2 separate regions of the Homo sapiens genome follow, and region 2 is linked to region 1. Evidence: fine-mapped expression QTL. A gene starts in region 1. The other region holds a variant in brackets. All regions are shown on one strand. Distances are from middle to middle. Region 1 holds the start of BCL9L (BCL9 like). Region 2 overlaps CXCR5 (C-X-C motif chemokine receptor 5).

What was found. PIP is the estimated chance that this variant, and not a neighbour inherited with it, causes the effect.
Region 2: its variant is the best candidate, but not a certain one, in a credible set for the expression of BCL9L in whole blood (TOPMed, PIP 0.76).

Annotation. Positions count from the first base shown.
Region 1 is chr11:118,924,379-118,927,273 of GRCh38, reverse strand. BCL9L (BCL9 like) reads left to right here and starts at 1,348. Exons shown (of 10, transcript NM_001378213.1): 1 at 1,348-2,036. RefSeq lists silencers at 224-283, 1,104-1,243, 1,444-1,493 and enhancers at 1,689-2,190, 2,562-2,631, 2,860-2,895.
Region 2 is chr11:118,892,850-118,895,744 of GRCh38, reverse strand. It overlaps CXCR5 (C-X-C motif chemokine receptor 5), which reads right to left. Exons shown (of 2, transcript NM_001716.5): 2 at 1-2,149. The coding sequence ends at 1,082. Among named protein-coding and RNA genes, the nearest start is that of CXCR5, 10 kb to the right of the region's middle. The variant C/G (reference allele first, on the strand shown) is at 1,187.

The sequences.
Region 1 (2,895 bases):
GGGATAGGTGGTCAGAAGAGAGGGAGGTCAGTGAGGCTAGAACTATCTGGGGACCATCTGTGAGGAGGGGCAGGGGAGAGGGCCGAGGAAACAGCAGGAACAAGCAGGCTGGCTAGTGTTCTTCCTATCAGACACAGTCAATGCTTGTCACTTGCTATTAATTCTGGGTGGGTGGGGACAGTAGGAAACAGGGAAAGTGCCCTGGGATAAGGAGACCCAAATTCTAGTCCTGGGCTTACCACTTTCTAGCTGGGTAGCTCTGGGTAAGTCCTTAGGTAATGCAAACCTCAATTTCCTCACCTCTGTAATGGGACCATAACCTCTTTCTTGCAGGTTTGTGGTGAGCATTGAAACATGTGAAATGTTTTTAAAAAGCGCTTTGGGCCGGGCGCGGTGGCTCACGCCTGTAATCCCAGCACTTTGGGAGGCCAAGGCAGGTTGATCACCTGAGGTCAGTAGTTCGAGACCAGCCTGGCCGACATGGTGAAACGCTGTCTCTACTAAAAATACAAAATTAGCCGGGCATGGTGGCAGGTGCCTGCAATCCCAGCTACTTGGGAGGTTCAGGCAGGAGAATCGCTTTAACCCAGAAGGCAGAGGTTACAGTGAGCTGAGACCGCGCCTTTGCACTCCAGCCTGGGCAACAAGAGCGAAACTCCATCTCAAAAAAAAAAAAGGGCTTTACATTTTCTTTTTCATTGCCTCGATCGTCCTATAGGGTGGTGAGAGTGTGTGTGTGTGTGTGTGTGTGTGTGAGAGAGAGAGAGAGAGAGAGAAGCACTTTGAGGTTAGGTTAGGAGAGTTCTTTTGAGAAGACAAAGGTTTCACTTCCACAAACATTTTCTTAGCATGCACTTTGTGCTGCTGAGGATTGAGATGAAAAAACTCAGTCTGTGTCCTCAAGGACCTCATGGTCTACTAGGAGAGACATGAATAAAGAGATGCTCAGTGCATTATGGATGTGGGTGGGTACAACGAAGAGGGGACCCAGTGCTGTGTGTGTGTGTGTGTGTGCGCGCGCGTGTGTCCAGGCAACTTCCACTCCTTCCAATCAGTGCAGATAGGAAGGTAGGTTTGTCAAACCTTTCCCTAGCCTGGGATGTTGTTGGCGCGTCTCCTCCCCAGTTCTCAGGAGTGAGGAGGAGAGCAGAAACCCCCCTCCCCGCCCCCGGGCCAACCTGCCTCCCGCTAGCCGGCCGGGCGCCTTACCGAGTCAGACCACTGGGAGGCTGGGGGAGCCGGGTTGGGCGAGGAGGCAAGCGAGATGGGGGAGCTCTTATTTTGACAGGGGCCTCTCCGGGCTCTGGTATGAAGGCAGAAGGAGGCAGCCAGAGAGCCCCGATGCTTATTCAGGCTGGGGAGTGGAGCCGAGTGGAGGGGCAAGCGAGGCTCCGGCAGCGCAGGGGAGCCCGGGGAGGCGGCGGCGCGCGGCGGAGCCAGTGGCTGGACATGCCCCGGACCCGGGGCCGCTGCACCACCGCCGCCGCCCGGAGCCAGCCGGCCGGACGCCCGCACGCCTGGGTCCCCCGGCGCCGCGCCGCCCGGGGGCTGTGACCCGGACCCTCGGAGTCCGACCAACAATAAGCGCCCAGACAGCCCCTCCCCACCCAGCGCCCGGCATTCCCGCGGGCTTTGGGGAAAGGAAAGGAGAGGCGAGGAAGGAAGGAAGGAAGCAAGCAAGCAAGCAAGGGAAGGAGGAGCAGGAGCAGGAGCCGGAGCCCTGAGGTTCGGGGCCGAGACCCCGGCCCCGCGCCCCGGCCCCGGCGGGTGTGCGCGCTCTCCCGCCACTGCCCGGCGCCCGCGACCATGCTCCGCGGTTGGGAGGCAGGAACCCAGGCACCCAGCGATCCCCGGATAGCCTCTCCCGGGCCGGGCTGGTATTGAGATCAAGGCGTCCAGGATCAAAAGATCACCGCCTGCCCGCCCCCTCTGCATCTCCAACTGGCGAGCAGGAGGACCCCCATCCACACAACGACCCTGACCTGGTCATGGCGTCCAGCTCCGGCCTGGCGTGAGGACCCCCCAATCCGCGTGAGGTGAGGGGTGGGCTGGGGGCAAGGCGAAAGTCATGCCAGGCCAGCAGAGGCGCGAGGAGGGAGATCCAGTTTGAATCGGGGAGGGGAAACACAGTCTGATTGTCTCTTGCTCTCTGGCACGTACCCCCAGGCTGTTTAAGGTGTGGGGGACTCCCCCAGGGTCAGTGGAGGCTACTCTTAAGCCCCCAATCAGGTTGGCAGCTCCAGAACACCGTGGGGAGGGCTTAGGGACAGCCAGGGGACCCTGCCACCCTAGCGCAGAGAACAAGGCCGGCCTTGGGCCAGCTGGAGCAGCGAACCTTGCCCTGGGGGCTTCTGGGAGATGTAGTCCCCCTCCCAGGCTCACCAACCCCGTGGGTCTCAGCACCCCAGCCCTCCTCCTCTGGCTGATAGGAGCCTCCAGAAGGAGGTGGGTTGGGACTGGGGAGAGCTGGGGGTCACCCTTTTCTCCCAGGCACTGCCTGTGAGTAGCGGGGGCTGTGACTGAGGAGTCTCTTCTTCCAAGGCTTCTGAGTGATGTGGGCTTGGCTGGGGGGTGGGGCAGTCATACAGTTCCTTGGAAGTGTCCCTGCGCTGCTAAGGGGAGGTGGCCCCTGTCTTGATCCAAAGGAACCCTCGGGGAAGAATGTAGGAAGAGAAGTGAGCTTAGGCTTCTTGTTGCGCTGGGGTAGGTCCTATTCCAGGGCTGCTGGAATTTGGTTTCAGAAGAGACAGAGGGCTGCTCTCTCCTTCTGAGAAGGATAGTGTCCCTTGAAGTCTAGGAGTCTGGAGGGTGTCTCTCTGGAGCAATGAAGCTAGGATCAGCTACTGTCTGTCTGTCCAGCTTCCTTCCTTCCGGGTTTTTCTGACACCCCCTCTC
Region 2 (2,895 bases), 32 kb after region 1:
TTTCTTACACTTCCCTGCCTAAGGTGATGCCACGGAGGGGATGGTTGAGATGACTCCCACGGGCCCCTTCCAGTCCACCTTTCTCCGTTCCGACTCTGAGTTTCCTCGGGTCTATAGCTTATGGGAAGGGAGTGAGGAGGGGACAAGCCAGCCTCCTTCCCCATCAATGCCCACAACCTCCCATCCCCTGGACCCAGCCACCCTAGGAGTTCTCCACCCCACCCCATCTCGCCTGGCGGAGGGGACCGCCGGGTTTGATTGATCCATCTCCCTCCTTGGGGTTCGGGAAGAAAGCTCTTTTCTTCCCTCTGTCGGGTTTCTTTCTTGCTTCTCGGCCTTCACGCTTCCTCAGGTCACTGGCTGGCCTCCAAGGGCACCTAGAGTCAGCCCTGCCTGCAGACCACCCAGGATCCGGTGACATGGGGTGGACCCAGCGCTGTTTCGGTCAGAGCCAGGGGCAGCTACCTGAACTCAACCAGTCTGAGCTTCCTGCTTGGTCAAGATGACTGCAGGCTTGGGGGCCTGGCAGAATGTCTGTGTTTTTAGGGACTGAGTTGTCCGAAGGCCACACTCTGCTGCCAGCTGGCCTTTCCTCAGCCTTAACCTCCACTCATCCCCTGGTGCTCAGCTTCTGGCTTTGTTTGACAGGTGGGCAGGAGGAGAGAGGGGAAGCTGTGGAGGTCAGCAGCCCCTAAGCTGATGGAGTGTGTTCTGGGAGGGGCAGGCGCTCTCCGTTGGCAAGGGCAGAAGTAGAAGTTGTTTCTTGAGCATTGGATGATTAGGATGGGAGGTGCGTGAGGTTCTCTCAGCCCAGGGGGGTGCAGATGGGTAAGGACAGCCTTCACTGTGCCTTTGAGCTGCTTTCCGCTCCCTGGGCTCCAGCCTAGCCCCAGGGCCGGCAGAAGAGCTGGCAGGGATGTTCTAGAAATGGGGGTTGGTTCCTCTAGCTACCCCAAATGAGGATACTCCTAGGACACTCTTAGCCACGGTGAGCCCTTAGGATCCCAGCTCCTGTTGGAAGGAGCATCCAGCATCACTGCCTGCCCCAAGGAAAAGCAGCAATAAAAGGGGACACTGGGACCTAGAACGTGGTGAGAGAGGTGGCATTCTCTGACTCAGAGAGACTGCTCCTGCGCCAGCTAGGGAAGAGCTGGCACAGGGAGGCAGGGCCGGTACAGCCCAGCTT[C/G]GTCAGGAGCCGCGACAGGTCACTGCGGAACTTCACGCCGGCGAAAGTGTAGAGCATGGGGTTGAGGCAGCAGTGGGCCAGGCCCAGGAACTCACACATGGTGATGGCCACGGGGAGAGAGCCATTCAGCTTGCAGGTATTGTCCACGGCCTTCAGCCTCGCCAGGGTGTCCAGGAAGATGACGATGTGGTAGGGTGACCAGCAGAGGAAGAAGATGCTTGTCACCAGGATGGCCACCCTGACTGCCTTCTGCCGCTGAGGGCGCCGCTGGGCCTGGCGCAACCTGTGCACTACCCCCACGTAGCACCAGCCCATCACCAGCATGGGCAGCAGGAATCCCGCCACATGGTAGAGGAATCGGGAGGTGAACCAGGCATGCGTTTCTGCTTGGTTCTCTTGGGAGAAGGTGCAACGTGGCAGGGAGTTGTTGTGATGGCCTTGGCTGACTTTGGCGAAGAGAATCTCTGGCAAGGCAAGGAGGAAGCCCACCAGCCAGATGGTCCCACAGGTGATGTGGATGGAGAGGAGGCGGCGGTGGCGGTAGGCATGGACGGCGTGGACAATGGCCAGGTAGCGGTCCACGGCGATGCAGGCCAGGAGCAGGCTGCTGCAGTAGAAGTTGACTTTGTGCAGGGCAATCACAGTTTTGCAGAGGAAGGTCCCCAGGACCCAGCCCACAGAGCCCTCGGCCACGGCAAAGGGCAAGATGAAGACCAGCAGGAGGTCGGCCACGGCCAGGTGGAACAGGAAGGTCTCCGTGGAACTGCGTGTCTGCCGGTGCCGCTCCAGGATCACCAGCACCAGGACGTTGCCGATCACGCCCAGGAGGAAGATGAGGCTGTAGGCCACGGGCACGAACACGGCCTTGAAGGAGGCCATGAGGGGCCCCTCTGTGGCAGGGCAGAGATGATTTTCCACCAGGGAGGTGTCGTTATAGTTGTCCAATCTGTCCAGTTCCCAGAACTGCAAGGGCAAGGAGACGGGAGGGTGAGGACCTAAGGACCTGTCTTTCCTCTCTGAGAGGAACCCTAGCTCTCTTGGAGGTTTTTTCCTACATAGGGCCCACTGACCAAATGTCAAGTTTCAAATTTCAATTTTGAACAAATCACTTTGTCTTTTCCAACTTCAGTTTTTCGCCTGTCAAAGGGACCGCATTCCTTAGAGTGGTGGTGCTGATGAAGGGAGGCGTGCGGGTGGCTGAGCTTTGTAAGTGCTGGAGGGCTGGACCCCATAAGTCAGCTTGTGTTTTTGGGTCCTCATGTACGGAAGCCTGCAGCCTTGGCGGCTGGAGTCACAGGACTTCAATTTGGGGAATGGACCTGCTTGGTACAAGGACCCATCTGTTCCAGTTCTGAGCAGAACAGTCGGGCACTGCAACTTAGCATTGTGCTGGGGACTAGGGGCGGGCGGGTGCTGACTTGGCCTGTGGGCTCCCTCCTCATGGGTCTTCCTGTTCCTGACTGTCTCTGTTATCACTGAAATGGCAGTAATAGCCTCCCATCTGGTTCAATATGCACAACCCGCTCAAGGTATGTAATATTATTCCTATTTCACAGATGTGTCTTGCTAAAGATCAGGTTTGTGTGAACCGACGTTTATCTACTTCCAAAGCCAGTACCTCCCACTGAACAACCCTGCCTGGGCTTCCTTCTAGGGGCAGCAGATGCAGGCTCCCTGCTACTTCCCATCACTGGCAACCTCCCTGCAGC